Linked DNA regions of Homo sapiens. The protein of the gene in region 1 purifies or fractionates together with the protein of each later gene. This does not show direct contact. Each region holds a gene or a part of one and is shown in the gene's direction. Other genes may lie near its edges. The genes, in order: SYNGAP1, GPHN, SEC16A, CNTN1, LIG3, PPFIBP1 and IGF2BP3.

The links.
Region 2: the proteins of SYNGAP1 (region 1) and GPHN purify together in Homo sapiens (co-immunoprecipitation; 2 studies listed by BioGRID and IntAct, with this or other methods). This does not show direct contact.
Region 3: the proteins of SYNGAP1 (region 1) and SEC16A purify together in Homo sapiens (co-immunoprecipitation; 2 studies listed by BioGRID and IntAct, with this or other methods). This does not show direct contact.
Region 4: the proteins of SYNGAP1 (region 1) and CNTN1 purify together in Homo sapiens (co-immunoprecipitation; 2 studies listed by BioGRID and IntAct, with this or other methods). This does not show direct contact.
Region 5: the proteins of SYNGAP1 (region 1) and LIG3 purify together in Homo sapiens (co-immunoprecipitation; 2 studies listed by BioGRID and IntAct, with this or other methods). This does not show direct contact.
Region 6: the proteins of SYNGAP1 (region 1) and PPFIBP1 purify together in Homo sapiens (co-immunoprecipitation; 2 studies listed by BioGRID and IntAct, with this or other methods). This does not show direct contact.
Region 7: the proteins of SYNGAP1 (region 1) and IGF2BP3 purify together in Homo sapiens (co-immunoprecipitation; 2 studies listed by BioGRID and IntAct, with this or other methods). This does not show direct contact.

Annotation. Positions count from the first base shown.
Region 1 is NC_000006.12:33,418,579-33,422,943, forward strand, and holds the start of SYNGAP1 (ras/Rap GTPase-activating protein SynGAP), read left to right. Parts: upstream 1-1,486; 5' UTR 1,487-1,686; coding exon 1,687-1,753; intron 1,754-2,423; exon of another isoform or gene 2,424-4,319; intron 4,320-4,365. UniProt on the Homo sapiens protein: Major constituent of the PSD essential for postsynaptic signaling. Inhibitory regulator of the Ras-cAMP pathway.
Region 2 is NC_000014.9:67,105,819-67,109,716, forward strand, and holds part of GPHN (gephyrin), read left to right. Parts: intron 1-2,555; exon of another isoform or gene 2,556-2,644; intron 2,645-3,898. UniProt on the Homo sapiens protein: Microtubule-associated protein involved in membrane protein-cytoskeleton interactions. It is thought to anchor the inhibitory glycine receptor (GLYR) to subsynaptic microtubules.
Region 3 is NC_000009.12:136,479,988-136,484,549, reverse strand, and holds the start of SEC16A (protein transport protein Sec16A), read left to right. Parts: upstream 1-1,509; 5' UTR 1,510-1,612; intron 1,613-4,562. UniProt on the Homo sapiens protein: Acts as a molecular scaffold that plays a key role in the organization of the endoplasmic reticulum exit sites (ERES), also known as transitional endoplasmic reticulum (tER).
Region 4 is NC_000012.12:40,695,391-40,699,288, forward strand, and holds part of CNTN1 (contactin-1 isoform 1 precursor), read left to right. Parts: intron 1-3,898. UniProt on the Homo sapiens protein: Contactins mediate cell surface interactions during nervous system development.
Region 5 is NC_000017.11:34,983,162-34,987,059, forward strand, and holds part of LIG3 (DNA ligase 3 isoform alpha precursor), read left to right. Parts: coding exon 1-391; intron 392-2,826; coding exon 2,827-2,970; intron 2,971-3,898. UniProt on the Homo sapiens protein: Isoform 3 functions as a heterodimer with DNA-repair protein XRCC1 in the nucleus and can correct defective DNA strand-break repair and sister chromatid exchange following treatment with ionizing radiation and alkylating agents.
Region 6 is NC_000012.12:27,684,530-27,688,427, forward strand, and holds part of PPFIBP1 (liprin-beta-1), read left to right. Parts: intron 1-2,855; coding exon 2,856-2,978; intron 2,979-3,768; coding exon 3,769-3,894; intron 3,895-3,898. UniProt on the Homo sapiens protein: May regulate the disassembly of focal adhesions. Did not bind receptor-like tyrosine phosphatases type 2A.
Region 7 is NC_000007.14:23,313,243-23,317,140, reverse strand, and holds part of IGF2BP3 (insulin-like growth factor 2 mRNA-binding protein 3), read left to right. Parts: intron 1-3,487; coding exon 3,488-3,619; coding exon of another isoform or gene 3,620-3,672; intron 3,673-3,898. UniProt on the Homo sapiens protein: RNA-binding factor that may recruit target transcripts to cytoplasmic protein-RNA complexes (mRNPs). This transcript 'caging' into mRNPs allows mRNA transport and transient storage.

The DNA of each region.
Region 1 (4,365 bases):
CTGAGAAGGACCCTTCACCCCAAACTCAGGGGTTAAGAGAGCGCCCCCTGCCCTTTTAGTTGGGCAGAGATATGCCTGGGTTTGGGAATGAACAACGGTGATCTAGAAGCCCGCTGTCCCTGGGTAGCAGGGAGTGATTAGGCAGGCACGGGCATGGCAAGACAATAGCTAGCTGAGGAAAGAAGCATTTTAAAACAGAGCGAGACCCTGTGGTAGAGGATGGTGAAAATGGGGCCTAGCCATCTTAATTGAAAACCCAAAGCTTGAGACAGACTACTGAATCAGAGGGAAGGAGAACGAGGGCTGCAGGATGGGGACAGTGGTGATGGTCCTTCTGTCCCCTCTTCCCTGCCTATTCCACTCCCCAGGATTGGTCCACCTCTCAGCCTCGGGTCTCCTTTCCCTAACCCATCCCCCAAGGAGCCAGGACCTGCCCTACATAACTTCCCTGGGGCCCAAGCACATCCTGTGACCCAAAAATGGAGAGAGGGGCCAATGAGAGGCAGAGAGGTGGGAGGAGGTGCAGAGAAAAAAGCTCTTGCCACTGCCCCCACCCAATATTTCCCCTCCCTTCAAGGTCTGAGGTCATTGGTCTGGTGGTGGGGATGCCTCGGAGTTTCCCAGGCTGACGTCAGGGTTATACCTCTCGGAGGTTCTAGGGCAGGGAAGTGGGGAGGGGAGGTTCCCTGAGATCTCTGTCTTTGAGTTTGGAGTTTGTCTCTGAGACAGATTTCGGAGGGGTCTTTCAGTATTTGTGTGGAGATCTTTCTTAGGATTGAGTTTCCTTTTATGCTTCTGGTTTGGGGGGTTTCTATGTTTCAGGGTCTGTGGTCGCACTCTGAGGTCTTTCGAAGTCTTCTTCATGAATTTTGGGTCTCTGAGTTGTCCATCTCCGGACCAGCTGAAGTCTCTATCTCCCCTTAAGTCAGGAGTGTCTCTGTCTCTAAGTTATCAGTCTCTGAGATCTGAGTCTGGGGTCTCTTTCTAGGTCTGAGTTCTCTAAGCTCTAATTCTACATCTGGCTCTTTCTGAATCTGGGCCTCATCTTTTTCTGAGTCTAGGTCTCAGGTCCTGGTCCCTGAAATCATCATCTCAGGGTCTGGAGTCTAAGATATCTGTAGGTATGGAGAACCCTTTTTAGACTGGATTTTCAGATTTTGATATTGAGCTTCTCTCTCTGGGGGATCTGGGGTCGTTTTTTCCTCAAATCAGGAGTCTCTTTTCCTCTAGATTTTGGCCCTGTGTCTCAAATTACCCCACAGTGGGGGGTGGTGAAGTATCTTTCTCTGTGGGTCTAGGGTCTCTCTGTCTCAGGGTCTGGGGTCTGCATCTTTAGGACCTCTGTCTCTCTCTGGTGTGTTTTTGAGTCAGGGGTCTCTCTCTCTCTCACAATCTGGGCCTCCCGGAGTAGGGGTGGGGGCTGCAGAGTCTCTCCCTCCTCCTCCTCCTCCTGCTCTCTTCGCTCTCGCTCGCTCCCCCGCCCCCCCTCTCTCTCGGCTGCCGCTGCTGCCGTTGGCTCTTATTCTCCTCCTCCTCCTCCTCTCTCCTCCTCTCTGCTTCTCTCTGCTCCTCTCTCCTCCTCTCTCCTCCTCCTCCTCCTCCACCTCCTCCTCCTTCTCCCCCTCTTTCTCCCCCTCTTTCTCTCTTCTTTCTCCCCCGTCCCCCCGCCCCCTCCCCCCAGGCCTGATGAGCAGGTCTCGAGCCTCCATCCATCGGGGGAGCATCCCCGCGATGTCCTATGCCCCCTTCAGAGGTACGTGGTGGGGGGAGGGGGAGGGCCATATGGGGGGCAACAGGGGGAGGGGCAGGGGGCGGGGGAGAGTCGGGGCCGAGGGAAGGGAGCGGCTGAAATGGAGGGAGAGGGGAGGACCGGGAAGGCAGGGGTGGGAGCAACCGGGAAGGAGGGATTGGAGGCCAGAGGGATAGGGGTAGATAAGGGATGGAGGGGCCAGGAAATGGGCCTTGAAAGGGGGCTGAAGGGAAAATGATGAAGGGGAAAGAAAGCGCCAGAAAGGGGTGGGAAGGTAGAAGGATTGGGTTGGGGAAAAAGCTGCAGAAATAATTTGGGGGTGGGAGCTGAGTGATGAGGAAAACATCAAGGAAATAGAGGGACAGAGTCTTGGGAGAGGGGCTAGGAAGGAGAAATGAAAACATAGGGGTGAAAAGAGAAGCCAAGAAGATGTGGGGGGATAATTTGGTGGGGGACTCAGAGTATGGTAAGGGGCGGAAAAAGAGAGGAGGATGGAGGGAGAGAAGGGGCCAGATGGAGAGAGAGGGAGGCAGTGGGGGGTGGGGGGATGGAGGGTCCAGATGGAGGGAAGAGAGAAGAGAGAGGGAACGGTGGGGGAGGGGAGACCAGGGCAGGGGGAGGGCCAAATTATGTGTGCTTGGGGGGGTGGCAGTACAAGTAAGATGAAATGATGGGAGTAGGGGACAGGTTAGGATCCTGCCCCAGACTCTGACCCTCTTAAAGGCTCTTGACCAGTAAAATGTAACCTCTGGGGTCTTAATGCTGTCTTCACTTCATCACTTTTACCCCCTTCCCCCACCCCTCCAATCCTTATTTCCATTCCCCCTCCCTCCTCTGCTGTCCATCACCTATATCTTTCCCCCCATATGGTGTCCGTTCCTTATATGAGTCCCCCTTCTGTCCTTCCCCTATATCAGTCCCCTCTCTGGTGTTCATTGCCTCTCTCTTATCTCTTTTCTATGTGGTCGCTCCCTTATATCTCTATCACTTCTTTACTAGTCCGTCTTGACCCCTTCTCATAGCCTCCGCATTAGGTCTGCCTCCTTTGCTCTGACACATGTCCAGTCGAGCCCTTCAGGTGTATTCCCTTGCCCCTGGGCATTTACCATCATTTCTGCCTCCTTTTCTATCTACTCCTATTATTTGTCTCCCAGACCATTCCTTGTCACCACAAGTCTGTGCCTACCCACTTTCCCTTAATACCTCAACTCTTATTATCATTTCTCTTTTCTTGTCTCCTCTACTTATTGGGGTGTTGGAGATTTGGGGTACAAAGACACAGGTTTTGATGATTAGAACAAGGGATCCCCATCTCAGCCCTTGAGGGATTTCTCATCCTAGTAAAAATTTCCCGTTTCTCAGCCATGTTGCTCTGCCTCTTGCATCTGCCTCCCAGAATCATTCTTCACCAAGTCCAGACAGTATGTGTGTGTGTGTTTCTAGAGTTGTTCCTAAGTTCCCTGCTGCCAGGAGAAAGATGCCCTCTGAAGTCTAACCCGCCTCCCTTGGCTGCAGCCTGAACCAGCCCTTTCCCCAAATGCTTATGTGTATCAACAGATTTCTCCTCTGGGTATACCAAGTGTCTAAGTGCGGTGGGCATGTTGCCTGCAATGTCTGTAGTTTCAGAGGCTAGGTATTGGTGATCTCTGTATCTAGAGAACATTAGTTAGTCTCTGAGATGGGTTGAGATAGAGTTTCAAAGTATGTGGTTTCTAAATGGTGGACATTCTGAGGGTTCATCGCTCACTGTGATCTGGAGGTTGGGTAAATTTGAGAGACATATTTATAGACAGAAAAGGGCTGAATTTGCAAAACTCTGCTACTCAGTGCATTCTGTTGGAATGAAGCTCAAAGACCAGTTCTCCTGCAGTATACTCATGGTTATCCCATAAAGGTGACAGAGTTTGATCTTTTTTCCATCTAAAATCTGATACCTTAAGCCTAATTTCTAGCTCTTTGCTGTCGCCAATGTGACATCTCTCTTACTTCAATAGGGCCTGTGTGGCATTGGGGTTTAAAGGAGAGGCAGTTTGCAGGGAGAGCGGCATGGCAAGAACAACAGAGCTGGGGAAGGAGGACCCTGGTCTCATCTCAGCCATAGGCGACACTTGGTCTACTGTTCTCTCTTCTCAAAGTTTTGTTCCCATCTCCAGCTCTTGTCTTTGGAGGCCCCTCTGTGTCACCAGGCCTGGATATTCCATTCTTTCCCCCTGACATCTTTCTTCCTCAAGCTCCTCACTGTGCCTTGAGAAGGCTCCTGACCTATGGAGTGGCTTCCATCCTGTCCACTGAGACTAGGTGGGGTGAGGTGGTGGGGGCAGTGTTGAATCTCTGGGCACTGAATGGGAGAAGAGATAAATTTGGTCTCTACTTGTCCAAACAAGGGCATATTTCCCACCTTCTGCCCTGGGGCCTCCACAGCCAGATGCCGACAAAAGCCATCTTCTCCTTACCACCAGAAGAACCAGAACTTTCCCTAAAGGATGAGCAGGGTTGAACTAGGGGAGGAGGGCACAGAGGAGGGAAGAGTTGGGAGGGGAGGCCCTCTCATGTCTCTGACTGTGAACAGGTAAGCTCCCCGACTTCTTCTTTTCTAGATATTTAGCCCTCAGAAT
Region 2 (3,898 bases), on another chromosome or scaffold:
ATTTACATTTAAGGTTATTACTGATAGATGAGGACTCCTGTCATTTCATTGTTTCCTGGTTTTGCTTACCCCTTGCTCCTTCTCTTATTGTTTATCATTGCAGTTGGGTGGTTTTCTACATTGATACTGTTTTATTCTTTTCTCTTTCTCCTTTATTAATCTGGTCTACCAGTGAGTTTTATGCTTGTGTGTGTTTTTATGATAGTGATTATTGTCTTTTTTGCTTCCAGATATATGACTCCCTTGAGAATTTATGGTAAGGCCAGTGTAGTAGTAATGAATTCTCTCCATTTTTGCTTGTCTGGGAAAGACTATTTCTCCCTCATTTCCAAAGGATAGCTTTGCTGCATATAGTATTCATAGTTAGAAATTTTTTTATTTCAGCACTTTGAAGATGTTATCTCCTTTCTTCCTGTCCTGTAAGGTTTCTGCAGAGAAATCTACTGTTAGTCTAATGTGGATTTCATTATATATGACTTGATTTGGAGACCTTTGGAATTCCTGGACCTGGATATCCATACCTTTCCCCAGACTTGGGAAGTTTTCAGCTATTATTTTATTAAATAAGTTTCTTATGCCTTTTCCTTTCTTTTTTTCTGAAACTCCAATAATATGAATATTTGTTCTTGTATGGTGTCCCATAAGTCTTACAAGCTTTCTTCACTCTTTTTCATTCTTCTGTTTCTCTCTGTCTCTCTCTCTTGCTGGGTATTTCAAACAACCTATCTTCCAGTTCAAAGATTCTTTCTTCTGCTTTATCAAGACTGCTATTGAAGCTCTCTATTGTAATTTTTTATTTCATTTTTTGAATTATTCAGCTGTAGGATTTCTGTTTGGTTCTTTTTTATGATTTCTCTATCTTTGTTGAATTTATCATTCTTATGAATTGTTTTGCTGATTTTGTTGAATTATCGCTAGGTTTTGTTTTTGTTTTTGTTTTTGTTTTATCTAATTGAGTTTCCTTAAGATCATTATTTTGCAATTTCTTTTCCAGGAGTTCATTGATTTCCTTTTCATTGGAGTCTGTTACTAGAGATGTATTCCTTTAGTGGTGTCATATTTCCTTGCTTTTTTGTGTTTCTTGTGTCCCCATGTTGATCTGTGTGCCTAGTGGAACTTTTGCTTCTTTCAGACTTTCTGGGTGGTTTTGTAGAGACGCCTGTAGTTGGGCTTTAGTGTGTTGGTTGCAAAGGGTATGGTGACTTTCTGGACAGGTGCAATGGTGTAGTCTCCTTGCAGCTTTTTCAGTTGCATTCAATGTCAGTAATAACTGTGAGTACCTCAGTGGCCTAATCCATAGAAGTTTGTGTCAGTGGTAGTAGTGGCATAGGCTGTTAATATCCTTGGTGTCAAGGGCTTTTAGAGTCCTCCTCTTCTTGTTTTCCACACAATAGGGAGAATCAGCTGAAGGGATCCCTCTTGGTGTTAGGTCTGACATGCCCTCCAAGCAGCTACAGTGGCACTGGGCTCAAAATATGGTGCTTGGAGTGACTGTGGAGCCAGGATCCAAGGCTCAGGGTCTTGTGAATCCATTGTGGCACCTGGTTCTTGGGGTTCAGGTTCACTCTCTGTGGCAGAGTTGGGTGTAGGTTATCCAAAGAACCAAGGTTTATGACTGAGGCACCCCCTAGCAGCTTGGACCCAGGTGCCCTGGTTGTACCTGTGATTTTATACCTCATGGGTAGGGTGTAGTACTGACCAAACTCCAAAGAAAAAGGTTTTGGCCAGGGGAGCAGGGTATGGCCGCAGCTCAGGAACCAGAGCCAGTAGGGCTCAGCAGCAGCTCGGGTCACAGTGGATAAGGTACTGTGTAGTAGTGACCCTAGACCCCTGGATGGTGGGGCTACGCAGGTCCTCACTTCAGACTCTGAGGCCAGGTGCAGAAGCAGCAGATACCTTAGAATGGCAGAGCGCAGCTGTGGTTTGATCCCCGGGGGGGCCAAGGATCAACACAGAAATGACTCAACTCCCCAGAGAGGGGGGTATCTCAGCAGCTCAGACTCTAAGGGGCTATAGTCTAGCTCCAGAGAAGCAGGGTACTAGAGTTATTTGGCCTGTAGGTCAGGATATCTTGGCTCAATCAGCACTCTGTTTCCCTAGGACATGAGTGACTACATCAGCTCAGCCTGGGATGCGTAGGTGCTCAGCTTGGCAAAGTGTGTGCAACATACTTTCTAAGCCTTGCCATAACAGAGCAATATGTCTGGAAAAAGGATGATTAAAGAAGATTAGAAACTATCTCCAATGTCTGGATGGAGTTAAGGGAAACCAATAAAGGAATCTGCAGCACCCAGGAGCTAGCAACAGTGAGATTTCCTTACCACATCTTAGTCTGAAGGAGCAAAGAAAGACAATGGTACCTGAACCTGGGAAGATTCATATCTGTGGGAGAGGACTGCCCAACAGCAGCTCTTGCTCTCAGTAGGAGAGATGCCCTAACCATCACCAAACTGCAGCCCAGGAGGAAAAGAGCAAGGGGAATGAAAACTCTACTTTTCTGTCTCTCTCCTACCCTCTACATCTCTTACTGACCCCTCCCTTTGGCTGAGTCTCACCAGACGCCAAAGTGGTGGGAAACTGGTTAAAATAGTCCATAGAGGTCAGCTTCTGGACCACAGCACAGAGTAGAGAATGATGATGTGATCTGGAGAGGCAAACAGAAAATGAAACAAATCTTTGTCTTTGTAAGGCTTATATTCTGTAATATATAATGCACTTAACATTGTACCTAGCATAGATTGTGGGTTCAATAAATATTAGTTATTGGTAGTATTGCTTACAGTAATAATATTATGGAGAGAAGATTTTTAAGACTTTTGTAATAAATTTCCTGTTTTACTTTGATTGTACTTTCAGTAGTAAGGTATTTTTTTTTCTTAACCATTCCCTAAGGGGTGTGTGTGTGTGTGTGTGTGTGTGTGTGTGTGTGTGTGTGGTTTATTTTACTTTGTCTTATTTTGGTGGTTAAAATAACAACAATGACAAAACATACACACACATAACATTAAATATACCATCTTGACAGTTTTTAAGCTTATAGTTCAGTAGTGGTAAATATATTCACATTGTAGGGACTTAAGATTTTAAATAGAGTCATGAGTTACTTAATGAAGATATATTCTGAGAAATATGTTGTTGGGCAATTTTCTTGTTGTCCGACCATCATAGAGTGTACTTACACAAACCTGCATGAGTAGCCCACTACACACCTAGCCTACATGGTGTGACCTGTAGCTCCGAGGCTACAAACCTGCACAGCATATTACAGTATTACTGAATACGTAAGCAATTATAATGGTATTTGTTTATCAAAACAAAAAGTACAGTAGAAAATATGGTAATCTTATAGGACCACCATCATATATGCAGTCCAACATTGAGCAAACTATCCTTATGCAGCACGTGACTATACTTATGAGGCAGACATCTTTAGAAAGGAATCTTTTGGCAGGGGGGATTAATATTGTCTCAGGATTTTTTCTTAGGGAGAATTTGAAGCATTCATTTTCCAAACTCCAGTCTAAATCATTGCCCCTGACAAGTGACTTTCAGATCACTTCTCTATCAGATCAAATCTATCAGATGAATCTTACAGAAAAATGCTTTTCCTCATGTTGTAAGAAGTTAGCAGGGAAGGTTCTGTCTCTTATACCATCAATATGAGAGCACAAACAATGAAAATCTTGTTTTTCATTTTCAAAAGTAATGTTTAACCTAGGTCATTACAGACACTGGAATCATTTTTAAATGATTTAATTATATTTGCTCAACCTCTATTATTAATTGATAGGTGAGCTAATGTGTTTTAGAATATTTTCAAAGGCAATAATTAAAATATTTCTGGCTTGCCTTTATTTAACCAAAAAGTTTAGTTAATAAAGTACTGCATTTCTCAAAC
Region 3 (4,562 bases), on another chromosome or scaffold:
ACCCCCACCACGGCGCCTGCCCTCTGGAAGGAGCAGCAGAGGAAGGCCGCGGCTCTTCCCTGCCCTTGCCAGGCAGGTGTGCAGGTGAGTGGGCCCGGCATGGCTGGCCGCTTCCTCAACCGCTCAGCCTCCCTCGGCTCCTCCGAAAAATGAGGGCACAGAGGATAGTGCCCACCTGTTCCCTGCGATCTTCCGCGGGAGGGCGTGGATGCTGCCTGGCCTGGCCGTGGCAGGCACAGGAGCGCCTACCCGCCTCACCCCTCCGCTGGGTCGCTCTGGCCGCCCGAGCGCCCGGGCCCACTCGCCACCGACGTGCACTCAGCCAAGGCTGGGACCCCAGCGCCCCTGTGGGGCTGGCGGCCGGGGGAACGAACCGAGTAGGCCGCACCTCCCCGGGAGGACAGCAGGGCTGGGGCCAGGGTGGGCCTGGGAGGGCCCGGCGCAGCAAAGGCGCAGGGCGGAGCTTGGGGACGAGGAGCCCGCGCGTCCCCCTTGCGAGTCGGCGGACACCCGGCTCCGCGCGGTGGCCGGGCCGCCCCTCCCTGCCCGGGCCTCTGTGCAGAGCGAAGGGACAGTAGAGGATGCGTCGGGGAAACCCCAGGACGCTGGCCAGGGACTGGCGGCAGCCATCGACCAACTTCCGGCGCCGCTCGGTGCCCGCGGCCACGCCGTAACCAGGCAACCAGCGCGCAGGCGCAGTCGGCCCTCCGCGTCCCGCAGCTCCGGCCGCTCCCGGCGCATGCGCGGCCGCCGCCGCCTGCCCTCCAGCCTCCCAGCCCAACGGAAGAATGCGAGGAGCGCGCCCGCGTCAGGGCCCCGCGCTTCTCAGCTGGGCGGAGTAGCCGTTCTCGGTGCGTGAGCCTGCTGGCATCGGTCCTGCAGACTGATTTCCCGCTTGTGGCCTTGATTGAAGAATCCCATCTCTTCTCACATCTTAAAACGAAAAAAGACTGGGAGAAAGAGCCAGCGTAAACAGGGCGACGTACTGGGACGGCCCCGGCGCGCCTGGCCGGGCAGGTGGCGAGGGGCGGGGCCAAGCGGTGAGGCGGCAGACGGACGCCGGAGGGGGGCGGGGCCACGGGCGGGGAAGGACGGCCGAGGGGCGGGGCCAAAGGGGCGGGAACGACAGGATGAGGCGGAGAAAGACGGACGACGGGCGGGGCTAAGGGGGCGGGACGAAAGAATGAGGCGAGGAACGACGGAAGAGGGGCGGGGCCAAGGGGAGCGGGAACTACAGGATAAGGCGTGGAAGACGGGCGGGGGGCGGGACGAAAGAATGAGGCGGGGAAGAACGGACGCCGGCGAGGGGCGGGGGCAGAGGGGGCGGGACAGAGGGATGAGGCGGGGAGGACGGACGCCGGCGAGGGGCGGGGCCGAGGGATGGGCTGTGAAGGGCTGAAAGAGAACGCGTCTGGGCCGACGAGCCGAGGGGCGGGGCCAGGGGCGGGGCGCGCGCTGATGTCGTAAGCCGGACACGTCGGCGGCGCGGCGGCCGCGGAGACCCGAGCCGGATGTGCCAAGATGGCTGCGGCGGCTGAGGTGTCTGTGCTCGTCGCCAGCGTCGGGTGGGCTTTCGCCCGCGGCTCCTGAGGGATCGGTCTCAGCCGCGCGGGTGAGGGGGCGAGCGCGGGTGAGGGGGCGAGCGCGGGAGGAGGAAGGCGGAGGCCGGCCGGCGGAGCCAGGCCGTGGAGGTCGGGGCGCGGAGGAGAGGAGGCGGCTGGGCCCAGCCCCGAGCGGGCGGTGCATCTCGGGTCCCGCCGGGGCCGGTCGAGGGGACAGACGTCCGGGCCCCCGGGCCAGAGCGGAAGGCCGGACGCGGCGCGGGCCGCCGTGGGACTCGAGGGACTGACGTGGACCCGGCTGGGCTGCGGTGACGCCGGTTCCCGGGGCGGGAGGCTGGACCCCCAGGCACCCCTCGTAAGACTCTTAACTTTTCAAATGAGCGTGTCTTGTCCTCACCGGCTAGAAGGCTTCCTTAGCGATGCTGGTGAAGAGACACATTTACATTTGAACCAAAGAGCAGAGTTGTTTGTTTGTAATTTCTTGATTGGGCGATCAGGATGTTGCAACAGAGGCCGAGGGTTAGAGGAGTGTGTGTGATCCGGCTCGCCCCTTTGTGATGGAAGTGTTACAGTAGAGCCTTCAGAAACATCAGAGCCATTTAAAGTCAGTTTTTGCCGCTTAAGAACACTTTTAAATGGCTTGTAAGTTGGGTGTGGATTGTATATTAAGATTTTGTTTTACATGTGTGATGCCGATGTTAACCAAAGAGGTATTTCCCATCCCCCATGTGGCAATACGAAGCAAACGGAACCGCAGACGGTTCTTCCTAGAAGTGATACTTTTGCAAGTTTCAGCACAATGCAGCCTCCCTGCGTTTTTTCCTCATCCCCTTTCTTAAGTTTCAGGTGCTGGTATCTTGTAGACAAGAGGCAAAATAGCGTGTCTTTCTTGTTCCTTGTTCCTCGTTTACTGTTAATAGTGGTTACTACAGTGAGTCTCAAAATTGTACTTAAAGTTTTCTTTGAGGCAGTGGGCACTTTTTTTTTCTTTTTCTTTGTCTTTTTTTGCCAAATCCAGCAAGAGGTCATGGTAGTGGGTAAATGTTAATGTGATTTCTTCTTCTGTAAGCATCTTTCATGAATACCAGGGTCTTCGTCATTTTCATCAGTGTTAGGCTGCTGGCCTCCTCTGTCGCTGGCTTCCTCTTCAACATCTAACTGTATGTGGTTGCGATTCTAACTTAGAAGAGTTGGAGTTGATCATGTCTTTGTGTCAAGCATCCCACAGTCTGACAGGGCGTCACTAGCAGCCACCGTGAGGGAGACTGTAGGCAGTAGGTAAACTCAGGGGCTTCCTGGCACACTATTGTTTTCCTCACTTAAAATATGAAGCCAGTGGCAGCAAGAGGAGAGGGGTGTGCATGCATTTTAAATGCCTCAGTTCTGTAGCCAGAACTGTACTAAAAAGAGTTTTGCTTAGGTATCCACATGGTTACAAGGCAGTTTAACTGACTAGCTAGGTTTATGAATACTGCATTTTCAAGATCAGCTGGCCTCTTTGGAACAATAAAAGAATTAGATGACTTGAGGTTACAGAATAAAATTCCCTGGGCCGGGCGCGGTGGCTCATGCCTGTAATCCCAGCACTCTGGGAGGCTGAGGCGGGCGGATCACGAGGTCAGGAGATCGAGACCATCCTGGCTAACACGGTGAAACCCCGTCTCTACTGAAAATACAAAAAAAAATTAGCCGGGCGAGGTGGCGGGCGCCTGTAGTCCCAGCTACGCTGGAGGCTGAGGCAGGAGAATGGCGTGAACCCCGGGGGGCGGAGCCTGCAGTGAGCCGAGATCGCGCCACTGCACTCCAGCCTGGGTGAAAGAGCAAGACTCCGTCTCAAAAAAAAAAAAAAAAAAAAAAAGAATAAAATTCCCTGTAGTGGTGACATAGGTGATAGGCAGTTGCATTGTTTTTCTCCTGGTGAGTAGAGAAAAAGATCAAAAAAATCAGTTCAAGTCACAAGATTGTTCCAAATGAAAGTGGCATGTTGCTAAAAAGCTCTCAATTAGGGAGCATGAAGGTTGGAATGCTCCTTGTAAGTGATAATGTTTGCCATAAAAAAGCTCTTAGTCTAGGAGAGCTGCGGAATAATTTTTTTTTTTTTGAGACGGAGTCTCGCTCTGCCCAGGCGGGAGTGCAGTGGCGCGATCTCAGCTCACTGCAAGCTCCGCCTCCCAGGTTTACGCCATTCTCCTGCCTCAGCCTCCCGAGTAGCTGGGATTACAGGCGCCCGCCACCACGCCCGGCTAATTTTTTGTATTTTAGTAGAGACGGGGTTTCACCGTGTTAGCCAGGATGGTCTCGATCTTCTGACCTCTTGATCTGCCCGCCTCGGCCTCCCAAAGTGCTGGGATTACAGGTGTGAGCCACCGTGCCCGGCCACCCCTGTTAAACAGCAGGTGGGATTAGGACATCCCAGAATCCACTGTGAGTAGAATCTCATAAGATTAAACCCGGGTTTTTTAGGAAAAAATAATCACATCGATTCTCGCATTTTATAGACAAAAATACATTGCAGAAAGAGGAGTGGCTGCCTCGAGCCACTCACCTGGACACTCAGTTTTGCTCTCACAGCAGCAGCCAAGGAATAAACCTCTAGGCCCGTGCTCTGTGTTTAAAGCAAACAAAAGCTTTTGAGGATGATAAGGATCTTCCCGGGGAAGGCCATGTCTTGAGAGATGAGGTAGGACCCCAGTTCTGGCAGCAGAGTTTCAGGAGGTGCTTGGAAGTTTGCGTGTTCTGGCCGTGGTTGCAGGTGTCGCTGTGTCTGCTGTGGCTGTGCAGCTGGTAGGACCCAGTGGAAGATAATGCCAGTGCACAGATCAGAGGAAGATGCTCTGCCTGTTCTCCTTTCAGTCCATATAAAATAGAGCTGTGAACATTCTTTGTTTTCAGATGAGAGCCTAAAACCTCCATGAAGCCTTTGCTGCTGTTCCTAGTAAATAGCTTGACTTAAAATACATTGATCAGTGTTTTCTTCTTTTTTTTTTTGAGACAGTTTCA
Region 4 (3,898 bases), on another chromosome or scaffold:
TAGGGATTATGACTATGTACTGGTTCTATGTATTCTCTTGTATCTTGTGTCCCTTGAGACCAACTAGGAAGAGCTGAAATAGACAATTTATATTTCTGTATACAAAATATGTCCTGTAATTGCCTTATTTCAAAAAAAATCAACAAATTCTCCAATTTCCATCTATTTCTACATGTAAATTGGCCATGGTCTCTATCATATCCCACAACTTATTCTAACTCACCAGTAAGCTCCTCCTCAATTCCAATGTTTGTTTTCTTTTTATTGATGTATTATCGATTGTTCTCTTCTGACCTTCTATTTTCCATATTGTCCATCTTCTTGAAATTTTGCTCCTTGACACCACAATGCTCTGATAGCGTACTTTTTTCTTAATTTTTCTAACTTTCCTTTCTTTGTCTCCCTCTTATCTTCTCTTTCTACTTCTAGCTTTCAAGCAAATCCCCCAAATTGATGACAATTTATCTTATTGAAAATAAAGTTCTCCTTCTGCATTTCCATTCCTAATCTCCCTCCCATTAGCCATTTCCTTTACACTTACCCTATCGGCTAAGAGCACAGGCTTTGGGAGGAAGCCTGCAGGTGTTAATATTTATGTATCATGATGCAGTTAAGCGAACATCAGCAAGTCAACTGGGGATTATCATAGCACTTACGTGAGAGGATTTTGTGATTTGTAAAATATTAAGTGAGATAATGCGTGTTAAACATTCAAAATAAGGTTTGGCCCATGGTAATTACTCATAAAGAATAGCTATTAATAATAGAAGTGCTATTGTAGCAATTGTAATGCACAAGGTGAAAACTGGTTTTGCTTTTTCCCCATCAATAGGCATCATTCCTAAACTGGCTTTTATCAATGGAGACTACAACTTTACAGGCTTTCTGGCTTGTGGTTAGTTACTTTTTAAGACTTTCTTTCCTCTAGTCCAAGTGTTCACCATATAGTCAGTAATTGATTCATTTTTATTTTCAACTCTAATTTGTATCTTTCTCTGCTTATTCCAGCACTAGTTTCTTCTGGCACTCCATGCCTGGATGAGTCCAGTAGGCAAGTTATCAAAACTTCCAATTTATAAGTCTATCTGCTTTAATCTAAGATGCCATGTATTATTGGTATAATGTGTTTTCAATTTTCATTAGTGCTTCTACTTTCCTTTGAAACTTTCACTGTACTTTAGTTCGTATCTTAAAAAGCACTGATTTTGGAGCAGGAGACTCAGGTTCAACTCCTGACAACAGGACTGATCCGTTGTGTGACCTTGGAAATGTAGCAGCAGGAGGATGGGGCATTATTTCACTTCAATAATATGAATGACCAACTGTGTAAAGTTACACTCAAAAGTCTATCTATTTAATATTCAATTGAAAATAATATCTTATTATTATAAGGACATCTAAAATCATTAAAGAAATACTGGGAATAAAGAAAAATCCACCAAATTCCGCAGTACAAAGAGATCCTATTTCAATCTTCTAGTCTTATTTCTATTAATATAAATAGGTATTTTTCAATTATAGATTTGAGTTTACAGTGAACATTCACTTTTGTATTTAGCTTTTTAAACTTAATATACCATAAACATTTATTCATTTCATTTAATATTCTTACTATCCATGTGTTTTTTGGCTGTCAATATTCTATGATAGATCTTCAGATTGTTTTCAGTTTTGCATCGTCAAGAACATGAACCTTTGTATACATTAATATTTGCATTTCTGACCATTTCCTTATGACACCTTAGAAGTTACCCAGGCAAAAGTGTAAATATTTTTAGCCTCATAACACTTACTGCCAAATTGCTTCCCCCAAAATGTAAGCACAGATTTATTCTCTACCAGTGGTTGTACCAGTTTGGCCATACTCTCATTAACACTTGATATTATTTTTAAAAATTGGGATCATTTTGATAGTACAAATTGTGTATCTAGTTATTCTTCTGAGTTATTGTTCCTATGATTTTGGATGAGTTCAAAAATGTTATATTTATAGGTTCTTTGTATTTTTTAATTTGTGAATTTCATTTGACTCTTTATTGGAGTGTTCATATTTTCTTCATGTAATAGGAAATCTGAGGTATACTGCAAAAATTGTCTGCATCTTGTTCTTTGCATTTTAAAAAATGCTTTCTAACACACAGAAATGTATAGCTTTACTGTAGTTTATAAATCTATTTGCAGTAGTGTCTCTTTGTAGCTTTCAGGTTCAGAAAACTTTCTACCACTTAACGGAGAATTGAATATAAAAACAACATGTGACGGTGCTATTGCTGAACTTCTTTCCTCCTTTGAAGCAGAATCTGGCTTATGTATATCATATGTATATCCCAGTGCGAAATGGCTCTGGGGACACATAAAATCCACTCAGTCTATTAAGATCCTATTATTCTTTAGGCAGCTCTCCCATGAAGTGAATAGTACCTTAATTCTTTCTGAGCTACTATTGTCCATTTTAAAAGAGCCACAGGGCAGAATGCACTATGGAAGATATTAATGGCCAGGTTACTCAGCCAGAGCAGGGCACATTGTTTGCACAATTATCTGAATGACTCAGGCACTAAATCTGCTTCTGCCAGGATTATCCAGATGGTCCTTAACTCAGTAGATAATTTTTCACTCCTGTACTTGATTTTGATGGTGTAGACCTGAGCATGTCACCACTTTTCCTGCACTGTCTTGTTACTACTCAATTTGCTTAGGGCTGGTTGCTTTAGTTTCTTTTATGAGAGGCAGGTTTGCCCGGTTCTCCAGAGCATAGGTGTTAAGAGTTATGCAGAGCTTTGCATGAAACCTAGCTCAGTCAGTTACTAGCAGCGTGCTTTGAGGCCAGCCACTTAATTTTTTTTTTTTTTTTTTTTTTTTTTTTACGGAGTCTCGCTCTGTCGCCCAGGCTGGAGTGCAGTGGCGTGATCTCAGCTCACTGCAAGCTCCGCCTCCTGGGTTCACATTATTTTCCTGCCTCAGCCTCCCGAGTAGCTGGGACTACAGGTGCCCATCACTACGCCCAGTTAATTTTTTTGTATTTTTAGTAGAGATGGGGTTTCACCGTGTTAGCGAGGATGGTCTTGATCTCCTGACCTTGTGATCCGCCCGCCTCGGCCTCCCAAAGTGCTGAGATTACAGGCGTGAGCCACCATGACCGGCCATGAGACCAGCCACTTAAATTTTTTTACAACATTGTTTTCTGTGTAAGAAACATATTCAGAGTTTGAAGTCCCTATTTCATTCTCCTCCCTCATAGTCGCCTTCTTCTAAGTACATTCTATATGTCATAACCACAGTTGTCTTTCTAAAACCAATTTCATCGTATTCTTCCTCTGCTGAAAATTTTTTGAGTTAGTTCCCCTTTTTTTGTATTAGTAAGATGTCTGAAGTCTTTTGCATTGCACCTAAAGTCCTTTATTAAATGGTACGTGGTAACTTCTCTAGATTCATTTTCTGATTAATCAAATTTCTTCCATCTCCAATCTCCCGTAATGTCAATCAACTGAACGGTTTGCCTTCTCCTAATGCATCTTGTTTCCTCTTTTCTCGCAACACCCTCCCATGTTCCCCATGTTCTATTCTCTACTATAAATAACCTGTTTTCTTGTCTGCTTTTTAACTGACCTAACCTTTTCATGCCTTGGGTCAGGTGCCACCATTTCTTGGAGGACTTCCCCTGAATTCCCAGTCTTAAATTTTGACTCCCTGTGGATATCCCTGCCGTGTCACTTACCATACTATATTGTACTGATTGGTTACTTGTCTCTTGCCTCCACCGTAAGTCCTTGAGGATAGACACCATATGTTATTTTTCTTTGTGTCTGATAGAGGACCTGACATAGAGTTGATACTTAATAAATATTTTCTGAAGAAATGAATAAAAGAAGGTTAAGACTAAATTAGTTTTTAGGAT
Region 5 (3,898 bases), on another chromosome or scaffold:
AGAAAGCCTGTTCTATCATTCCAGGGAAGCCATCTAAGATCACGTGCCACCTACCTTGTTTTCTTGCCAGGGTTGCATGTGGGACTCTGCAGTGGCCCCTGTGAGATGGCTGAGCAACGGTTCTGTGTGGACTATGCCAAGCGTGGCACAGCTGGCTGCAAAAAATGCAAGGAAAAGATTGTGAAGGGCGTATGCCGAATTGGCAAAGTGGTGCCCAATCCCTTCTCAGAGTCTGGGGGTGATATGAAAGAGTGGTACCACATTAAATGCATGTTTGAGAAACTAGAGCGGGCCCGGGCCACCACAAAAAAAATCGAGGACCTCACAGAGCTGGAAGGCTGGGAAGAGCTGGAAGATAATGAGAAGGAACAGATAACCCAGCACATTGCAGGTAAGGTAGAGAACACTGCTTTCTCATCTTACTGGTGCTGAGAGAAAAAGGGATAAGGAGTTCAACTGCTTTCTTTCTCTTTTTTTTAACTTTGCTCTTTTAGAGATGGGGTCTCACTCTGTTGCCTAGGCCAGTGTTTAATGTTGCATTCGTAGCTCACTGCAGCTTTGCACTGCTGGACTCAGGTCATCCTGACTCAGCCTCCCAAGTAGTTGGGATTACAGGCGCATGCCACCATGCCCAGCCTTTAACGTTTTATTTGGAAATAATTTTAAACTCACTGAAGTGTTGGAAGATTAAAAATAGTACAAAGAACATTCATATTCCTTTTACCCATATTTACCTATTAACATTTTACTCTATTTGCTTTATCATATTTGTTCATGTGCTGTCTCTCTCTACATACATACACACGTGTGCGTGCACTCACTTTAAACCATTTGAGAATAAGTTGCATACATCATGGCCCTTTAAAATTCTTCAGTGTATATACCTTAAGAATAGGATATATGACCCTTATGCGACTATAATATAGCTATCATCTTCAGAAAATTTGTCCTTGATGTAATACTTAAATCTACCATCTGTATACTATTTTGTCAATGGATTGAGTCATACCTTCAGTAGCCTTTTCCTGCAGTATAGGATCCCAGTCTAGGATCATATCAGGTGTTGCATTTAGTTGTCATGTTTCTTTGGCCTCCTTTAATCTGAAATATTTCCATAGTCTCTCTTTTATGACATTGATATTTTGGAAGAATAGAGTACTGATTACTATCCTCTTTTACTTTTTTTCTTGTAGCATATAATTCATTACTGTACTTAACTAATTTGATACTTAATTGTCCCATATTTGGCCAATTAGGAACCCCTTTACACTGTCCTCTGTGTCCTGTATACCTTCATTAACTTTTTTTAATGTACTTCTTTACTCTTGAGCATAGCAAGATGCTTTTAGTCTTATCCCGTATGTATCCTTCCCCAGCCCTGAAATTGGTAATTTCTCTGGGGATTCCTGTTAGTGGGAAATGCCCCTGTTAAAGAGTAAAACCTGGATACTATGTGTCCACATTGTCATGGGGTATCTGTTTCTTCTTTTTTTTTTTTTTGAGAGTCTCACTCTGACCCAGGCTGGAGTGTAGTGGCACTATCCTGTTAGTGGGAAATGGTATTAAAGAGTAAAACCCGGATACTATGTGAACACATTGTCATGGGGTATCTGTTTCTTCTTTTTTTTTTTTTTGAGACAGAGTCTCACTCTGTGACCCAGGCTGGAGTGCAGTGGCACTGTCTTAGCTCACTGCAACCTCTGCCTTCCAGGTTCAAGCAATTGTCCTGTCTCAGCCTCCCAAGTAGCTGGGACTACAGGCACTTGACACCACACCCAGCTAATTTTTGTGTTTTTAGTAGAGACAGGGTTTCACCATGTTGGTCCAGCTGGTGTTGAACCCCTGACTTCAAGTGATCCACCCACCTTGGCCTCCCAAAGTGCTGGGATTACAGGCCTGAGCGCCCAGCCATGGCATGTCTGTTTCTAAGCCCTTTCAGCAGACAGAGCTAGAAAATATGTGCGTGTATATGCATGTAAAATTCATACCTATATATGGCTATATATAACATGTTTGCATGTACATGCATATTTACATATGCATATTTTAGAAATTTTATGCCAATACCCCCAAATCCAGTTAGTCCTCTTTGACCTTCAGTGTCTGTAAAATAATGTTCATATCTTCAACTTAGTTCTGGTCACCATAGGAAGACAGTTAACAATGGCTCTAAAAATGGGTATCTGTCCTTGTTCTTTGAAAGGAAAAAAGACTTCCGGGAAAGAAAACTGTGCTTCCCATATACTTTATTCTCAGGCTCCCCATCCCACCTTGCACTGCCTTAGCTATTGGCCTCGGCCTTTGTTACTTCTTGACCCATCTCTCATTTGGAGGAAGAGAAATACAGGTAGAGTTCATGACTCAGATAACTAAGCATCTGGAAATTTTCCTTCCTATGCTAGGTTGACATGCTCTGTGATCCTCATTTACTTTTTGTTCATCTCTAAATTGAAGCTAATTCTGTGGGGTTGGGGGTTCCCTAAGTTTTATCCATCAAACTATGATTTCTGATTTCCCCCAAATTGTTATTTCTGGAGACTTACATATGGGATAAGAAGTGGAGAATGTTGATGAAAATTTAAGGTACTAATAGAGATAAATGGTAACTGGATCTTTTGTCTCCAGCATATCCTTCCCTTCTGTCCCCACAATACCCTATTACCTACTACCCCCACTCAAAAAATACCAGCCACCAGCCAGCCTTGGGCTAGTGCTAGGGTAGTGACTTAACAAGCAAGGCCCTAGGAGCAGTTGATAGATTCTTTGGATGTTTTTTTCAGAGATCGTTCACTGAAGGATATTTTATACTCTTTTGGGATCCTACAGATCTGTCTTCTAAGGCAGCAGGTACACCAAAGAAGAAAGCTGTTGTCCAGGCTAAGTTGACAACCACTGGCCAGGTGACTTCTCCAGTGAAAGGCGCCTCATTTGTCACCAGTACCAATCCCCGGAAATTTTCTGGCTTTTCAGGTAAGATAGGTTAGGGCTACTTTAGCTGTTATAGTGCTGCTTTTATTTTGTATTCTACCTAGGATTCTGGCTAAAGAGTGAAAATTCTGTGCTATCTCATCTCATTAATAATTTGCTTCTGTCTGAGCAGAGACTGGTAATGGCTAATTCTAAGCCTTCCGCTTGGTTTTTGTTTGTTTGTTTGTTTTTTGGTTTTGGGGGTTTTTTTGAGATGAAATCTTGCTCTGTCATCCAAGCTGGAGTGCAGTGGTGCATTCTCAGCTCACTGCAACCTCCGCCTCCTGGGTTCAAGCGATTCTCCCACCTCAGCCTCCCAAGTAGCTGGGATTACAGGCACCTGCCACCATGCCTGACTAATTTTTGTATTTTTAGTAGAGATGGGGTTTCGCCACGTTGGCCAGGCTGGTCTCAAACTCCTGACCTCAGGTGATCCACCTGCCCCAGCTTCCCAAAGTGCTGGGATTGCAGGCGTGAGCCACTGCGCTCGGCCAGCATTCCACTTGTATAGCATTTCTTTGTATACTTTAACCTCTATCGCAGCGGAAAGATTTGTTTTGTCAAGACTTTTTCCCCTTGAAATAGTTACCTGGGCCAGACAGAGATTATTAGAACCTGTCTTTTACTTCCTTGTGTTTTGATAATGAAAGAATTTTGAGAAATTGTTTCCCTGAATATGCCTAGAAATGAAAGTATGAAAGAAGGGAGATGTCATGCATGGATCTCCCTTCTTGATTCTTAAAACTGTTTATTCAAAACACTGGAACTTCATGGAACACAAAGGAAGGAAAAAAAGATCTGAAGGATATTGCTATTTGTTGGGAGGCAGTACAGCCTAGGGATGAAGCTTGCAGACTTTGGAATCAGTGAGCTCTGGGTTCAAATCCCATCTCCTAAAGGGGAGGACTGTGGCTATTATTTGTAGGACAGA
Region 6 (3,898 bases), on another chromosome or scaffold:
TGTCAAAAAAATTTGGAGTTCAGTTCATGGATTTTTCTTCTCTGTCATTGAACCCAAGCCCCTTACCTTGATGAGCACATCACATAAACCTGCGTGAAATAATACTAATATGTGTAGTATGTTGCACATTTGCTATGTGTCAAACATCCTTTTAAGCATTTTGCTCATATTAATACTGGATTCTCAATAACCCTTTTAGTTAATATTACTAATATTATTATAGTGTGTATAATATATATTAAAAAGTTTTTAAAACTTTTTATTTTAAGATAATTTTAGATTTACAGAGGAGTTGCCAAAGCTAGAATTCTGTATACCTTTCACTCAGCTTCCTCTAACGTTAACATCTTACGTAATCATGATTACATTCATCAAAATTAAGAAATTAACGTAGATGTTAATACAATCAACTAAACTGAAGACTATTCACATTTCACCAGTTTTTCCAGTAAGGTCCTCCTTCTGTTCCAGGATCTAATCTAGGACACTACATTAAAACACACATTTTGTGACTTACGACTTCTGGGGTCAAATTTTCCAGGGTCATTTACTCTTTTATAGCCATTTCACATACGCTGCTTGTGATTTTAAGCTTGAATTTGTTCACATATATACTATATAATTATGTAATACTGTATATACATAGTATTATACACACATATGTAATACTGTAGATACATAGAGTATGTATATATATATATACACACACATACACATATATGCATGTTTGTATATATGTGTGTGTGTATCCATATACACACACACACACACTCTGTGTATCTATAGTATTATAATACTATTATTATCCCTACTTTTTTACATGTATAAAGGAAGGAATCGAGAGGTTGGGTAACTTGGTAACCAAGTTTCCACAGTTAGCAATAGAAAGTCATAGAGAGTTTGAACTCAGGCTGTTTCAAGATCCCTGCTTTTAATAGCTCACGATTATGACTAGAACACATTCAGTAAATATTTGCCTCCCTCTCTAAGTGTGAGTATGTTCCCCCTGAGAATGTGAACAAATTCAAGCTTAAAATCACAAGAAGCATCTGTGAAATGGCTATAAAAGAGTAAATGACCCTGGAAAATTTGACCCCAGAAATCCTAAGTCACAAAATATGTGTTTTAATGTGGATTAGATCCTGGAACAGAAGAAGGACCTTACTGGACAAACTGGTGAAATGTGAATAAAGTCTGCAATTTAGTCAATTGTACATTAATTTCTTAGTCTTGATGAATGTAATCATGATTATGTCAGATGTTAACATTAGAGGAGGCTGAGTGAAAGGTATACAGAATTCTATTCTATCTTTGGCAACTCCTCCACAAATTTAAAATTATTTTAAAATAAAAAGTTTTAAAAAAATTGGGAAGAAAATCACTCAGAAAGTCTGTTTTGATATAAAATAAAACTTTCTTTTTAAAATCCTTCGAAGTATAAAGAATTTCAAAAATAATTAACATTTTAATCACACTGTAAACATTGTGCATTCAGATATTTTTTTAAGCTGACAGACTAGTTAGATGAAAAGAGTCCAGACTGAAATGTTTGGAATGGGTGTCTCAATCCTAGATTAAAATAAGTACTCTTTCTAACATGTCTTAAGACACTACTTTTAAGGAATTACTCCAGAAAAACTTCAGGAAATAATTTTTGCCTGGTTAGTAGCCTCAAGGATTTAAACTGATTAATATTTTTATTAAATATTTCTGTAGTAGATTACATTTTTTTCTTTCTTTCATGAGAAGTGTTTTATCAGAAAGGTGTGTCTAAAATGGATGCTTTCCTTGTTTATTTTCTGGGTGTGTTTGGAAGTAGACTGTTGCTTATCTTCATACTGCTCCCAATATCACCTTCTTCTGAAATAATTTGTTTTGGTGTGTTTGGTATATTTGAAAATATTCCCAAGAGCCACAGACTGGTGAAAATTCTTCCTTGAAGGGGTTGATTGGTAATATATATATGTGATACTTATAACTTCATTTTTCTTCTCTCCTTGACTCTGACCAAAACCTTTGCACTGATTGATTATAGTTGTGCCAAAATTGTTCACAATGTCTGCTAGATAAACCATAATAATCTAGAGCTATTCAATAGCAGACAGGTCCTTACTAAAAAATAATTTAGAACTAGAGAATTATTAAGGTCAGGGAATAGTATAATAAGAGCACTGTTCTGATTTTCCCCAAAATTATGATGTGCCTTAGTTCAGAAAACCCAGCCTTGCTAGGAGCGGTGCCTCACGCCTGTAATCCCAGCTTTTTGGGCGGCTGAGGCCGGGGGACTGCTTGAGCCTAGGAGTTTGAGATAGCCTGGGCAGTATAGTGAGATCCTATCTCTCCAAAAAAAAAAAAGATGAAAAAAGAAAGCCAACTCTTGATCATGTTCACCAATGAGCATCATTCGCTCTTCACTATCTGCTGAAAGGAAACAGAGAGGGCAGTTTATCCAAAGCCTAAGTACTTTATCCACCGATAAAGTTCTCAAAACTAAAGAGGAAACAAATAAATTCCCTGTTTGTAGTATGTGCAGATCAAGTCAAAGCAGATCACCTTTTGTAGTGACCCAGCAAGTGCTTTTCTAACTGTGTTTTTCAGAGCCCTGGGGTTCTACAGATCTCAGAGCATCTGGAAGAGAGAGAAACAGGTGGAAGTCAGCTTCATTGGCAAAAAATACTAATCTGGGGTTTGGGGGAAGATTTTGTTCCAAATGGGAAAGTGGGTTCTGACAAGACCTTGGGGCATATTGGTTTGAGGGGCTCTTCTCCTTTTACTCCAGTTTTCTGAGATTCCCTAAGAAAGTCCTCCTGCTACAGGCCAGCACAGTGAGCTCCTCCTTTTGTTCTTTTTTGCAGGATGACTTACTGTCTCTGAAGGTTGTAAGTGTGCTACACCATCTCAGTATCAAAAGGGCCATCCAGGTCCTGAGGATCAATAACTTTGAACCAAACTGTCTACGGAGGCGGCCATCTGATGAGGTAGTGTTTTAAGATTGAGGTTTATAAGCATGCACTTCCCAGGCATGGGACTGTCCATGTGTCGAAACTAAGAGCCATTTTTCTTGGAGCCTGCAGGAAAAGCCTTAAAATCCAGCCTCATTTACTTCTTAGGCTTTTTCTGTATTCCTTCCTTTTCTCTCCATGACGGTTCCCCTTGTGTAACTAAAGCCAAGGGTTCTTTTTCAGTTATGCTTCTTCCTTTTCTTGGGTGTATTTTTTTTTCCTGACTCTAATCAACAGAGATAAATATCACTATAAAGACTTCCTTTTCTGGCCAAGTATAGTGGCCAATGCCTATAATCCCAGCACTTTGGGAGGCCAAGGCAGAAGAATCACTTGAGCCCAGGAGATCAAGACCAGCCTGGGCAACATAGGAAGACCCTGTCTCTACAAAAATAATAATAAATTAGCCAGGCATGGTGGGTGCACGCTGGTGGTCCCAGCTACTCAGGAGGCTGAGGTAGGAGGATCCGTCTGAGCCTGGGAGATGGAGGCTGCAGTGAGCCCTGATTATACCACTGCAACGCCAGCGTGGGTAAGAGAATTAGACCCTGTCTTAAAAAAAAAAAAGACTTCCTTTCCTAAAGCAATGCTTTATTAGTATATAAGAAAGCTTGAAACTCAAACTATGACAGAAATTCTTTAAAAGAGAATTTTTCCCTTTCTTTTTGCATTTAGTGGGTTGTTGAGTAACTGTACTCCATGGAGCAGACTTTTTAGACAGAAAATGCAATTTAATATTTAGGATCCTGGTTGTGTGTTCCCATAGAATACCATCGCCCCATCAGAAGTTCAGAAGTGGACTAACCATCGAGTGATGGAGTGGCTGCGCTCCGTGGACTTGGCAGAATATGCGCCCAATCTCAGAGGCAGTGGTGTCCATGGTGGGCTCATGGTAA
Region 7 (3,898 bases), on another chromosome or scaffold:
GCACGTTTAGTGGGATTTGAGGTCTTTGGGGCTGCAGTGTGCCTTTCAATGTCTACTGAGAGATGGTAGAGCTGAGACTTGGCAGCCAGGCTGCTAGTTCAAATCCTAGCTCTGCCATTTGCCTTGTATGACATTGGGCAAGTTACTTAACCTTTTTCTGTAAAACCAGGGATAAGAGCACCTACATCCTAAGGTAGTTTAAGGTTTACACAATATATGAAATGTTTAGAAAAGTGCCTAACACATGGGCAGCACAAAATTAGCGTGCTGGGGGTATTCAACAGACTATGGATGAATCAGACTAAGACCATGCCAAATTCATAAATATATTCCTTTTAGTGTATGATTTCTCCCACAAAATTTAGTATGGGTGTCTTGTCTTAGAACATTTAGTGGCTGTGTAAGAAGACAACTATTTAACCTTAAGCTGTAGTTTTTTTTTTCTCTTTTTTTTTTTTTTTTTTTTGAGACAGAGTCTCACTCTGTCGCCCAGGCTGGACTGCAGTGGCGTGATCTCAGCTCACTGCAAACTCCACCTCCTGGGTTCAAGCGATTCTCCTGCCTCCGCCTCCCGAGTAGCTGGGATTACAGGCATGTGCCGCCACGCCCAGCCAATTTATTTTTAGTAGAGATGGGGTTTCACCATGTTGGCCACACACTCAAACTCCTGACCTCAAGTGATCCGCCCACCTTAGCCTCCCAAAGTGCTGGGATTACAGGCATCAGCCACTGTGCTCCTGGCCAAGCCTTAGTTTTTTTAGCCTTAAAGTGTAACAGTAACTAGTAACAGTGCATACAGTTCTCTCCCCACCCCACCTCTCTCCCTTAAATCAAACAAAAAAAATCACTTTCTTTGACTTCTATTTTCTCTGGGCCATTTTTTCACTAAAAACCCAAAGCTGCTTTCACTTATGTGAAGAATGGGAAACGAAGGAGGTGCTTTGAGATGTGGGTGGTTAGGTGAAGAAAGAAAATCATGTGAAGAAATTTATTCCTTCACAGCAGCCTTGTGATCCAGGCAGTTCAAATCTTAACTCAGAATTGTTGAAAACTGCTTCCTATCCCAAACTCTCAGGGTCACTTTTAGTTTGAAATCTTAAAAGATAAATACAAACATGTCTTTCCTTGGTGCTGAGCTTTTAGTCTTATAAGTAGAATTACTGTCCTGCAACTCCTATGATGTTTGTATGATAGGAACTTCAAAGTTCTTTCCCTGTATTCACTAATAAAACTCATGTTTTATAGTTAACTTAAATGTAACACTTAAGCCATAGTAGTTAAATTTTATTTATGTGATTGGTGACAATGCTAAATGAATGTTTTACTTTAGAGATCTAAGGAATGGTAAACCACCTACCCCGTATTTTTCCTTACAAATTCAAGAGCTTCAGTTTTGGAGGATAGTGTATATCCCTAGTGTCTTTTTGACTGTCTTAAGTAATAGTAATATCTACGTCATTGGCCTGAGGCATTAAGGATCATTGGAATATAGGGTATCAAGATGAATTTTGTTTTGTCGGTAGTGCCCTAAAATGAGCTCAGCTTTCTGAATCAGTGAACGCGTGTTGGGTACTATTGTTTTTTGTGGTTTACCCTGGCAGCTTGTCAAACCAACTCTCAGGCTCCTTTCTGCTTTGCTGTATGTAATAGGTTGTTTATATATAATAGGTTGTTTATATAGTTGCATGCAGTAGGTGATAGGATGTATTGACTCTAAATATCAGAAGTGTCTTGGCCAGGCGCGGTGGCCCACGCTTGCTATCCCAGCACTTTGAGAGGCCTAGGTGGGTAGATCACTTGAGTCCAGGAGTTCCAGACCAGCCTGGCCTACATGGCAAAACTCCATCTCTACTAAAAATACAAAAATTAGCCAGGCATGGTGGTGGATGCCTGTAATCCCAGCTACTTAGGAGGCTGAGGCAGGAGAGTCACTTGAACCCAGGAGACAGAGGTTGCAGTGTGCTGAGATCGCACCACAGAGAAAGAGACTCTGTCTCTAAAAAAAATAAAATAAAAAAATAAAAAAAAATAAAAGGCAGGGCACAGTGAGTGGCTCATGCCCATAATCCCAACACTTTGGGAAGCCAAGGTGGGTGGATCACCTGAGGTCAGGAGTTCAAGACCAGCCTGGCCAACATGGTGAATCCCCGTCTCAACTAAAATAACAACAAAAAATTAGCTGGGTGTGGTGGCGGGCACCTGTAATCCCAGCTAGTTTGGGAGGCTGAGGCAGGAGAATGGCTTGAACCCGGGGGTCGGAGGTTGCAGTAAGCCGAAACCATGCCATTGCACTTCAGCCTGCATGACAGGGTGAGACTCTGTCTCAAAAAAGAAAAAAGTGTCTTACCTTGATGTTGTAGCCTCTTTAAAATATTCAAAGGAAAAACCACCTTTCTAAGAGTATGAAACACATTTAAATTGAAAACATTTTTCTCAGCAGGTTTCTAACTGGCCCATGTAGATGTGAGCTTGACTTTTAGTGAGCTTGGCATAGCTGACTCTGCAGTTCTGTCTCTTTTGCTCAAAAAAAATGTGACCAGGTGTGGTGGCTTGCACTGGTAATACCAACACTTTGGGAGGCCAAGGCAGGACTCTTGAGCCCAGGAGTTTGTGATGAGCGTGGCAACATAGCAAGACCCCCATCTCTATAAAAATTAGTGGCGCAGTGGCTCACACCTGTAATTCTAGCACTTTTGGAAGGCTGAGGTGGGCACATCACTTGAAGTCAGGAGTTCGAGACCAGCCTGACCAACATGGTGAAACCCCATGCCTACTAAAAATGCAAAAATAATTAGCCAGGTGTGGTGGCTAGTGCCTGTAGTCCCAGCTACTCAGGAGGCTGAGGCAGGAGAATCACTTGAACCTGGGAGGCGGGGGTTGCAGTGACCCAAGATCGTGCCACTGCACTCCAGCCTGGGCAACAAAGTAAGACTCCGTCTCAAAAAAAAAAAAAAAATAAGTCAGGTGTGGTGTTGCATGCCTGTAGTCTGCTACTCAGGAGGCTGAGGTAGGAGGATCGCTTGAGCCCAGGAGGTTGAAGCTGCAGTGAGCTATGATTGTACCATTGCACTCCAGCCTGGACAACAGGAGGACCCTGACTCCAACAAAAAGGAAAGAAAAATGCAACTGATGTCTCATGGCCAGCATGAGAAGTTTTACCTATCACAATTTTAGTACGAATGGCCATTTGCCCACAAAAATTCGTTTTTATTAGGTTATTAATTGCCTTTAACTGTTTTCATCAGAAGAATATGGTTTATCCTTCTTTCACCAAGCATTCAGTTGCCTCTACTGTGATGGGCAGTAGTTATTGTCAACCTTTTAGGACTTCTAACTGCTCTCTTCTATGTTATTTTCAACAATCTATGAAATGTAGATGTATCACTGCAAAGGGCTATCCCACTTGGATTTGGGCCATCTTTCAAGTTAACTGACCTTTTCCATTTCATACATGAATGACACTAATAGGATGTGTTTTCATCTGCAGGCTCAGGGAAGAATTTATGGAAAAATTAAAGAAGAAAACTTTGTTAGTCCTAAAGAAGAGGTGAAACTTGAAGCTCATATCAGAGTGCCATCCTTTGCTGCTGGCAGAGTTATTGGAAAAGGAGGCAAAACGGCAAGTACTTCAGCAAAACCTGTGCAGTGGTATGAAAGGGAAAGCGTTGAAAGGTACTTAGGAGTTCCAAGTCCCCGAATTTTGGCTAATTTATAAAAAGCAGGACCATCTTGACCAAGGTTTGGAGAAGATTGCCTTTTGTTTCCTGTCTGAGTGTTGGTGCCAGCTATTAGTGAAAGTAATGCATCTCTTTCAGATCACTTTGTGTGAGAGGATTGTCCTATATTTATAAAGGGCATTTAACGTTCTCCTGATAAAACTTTAGCTTTTTATGGAACA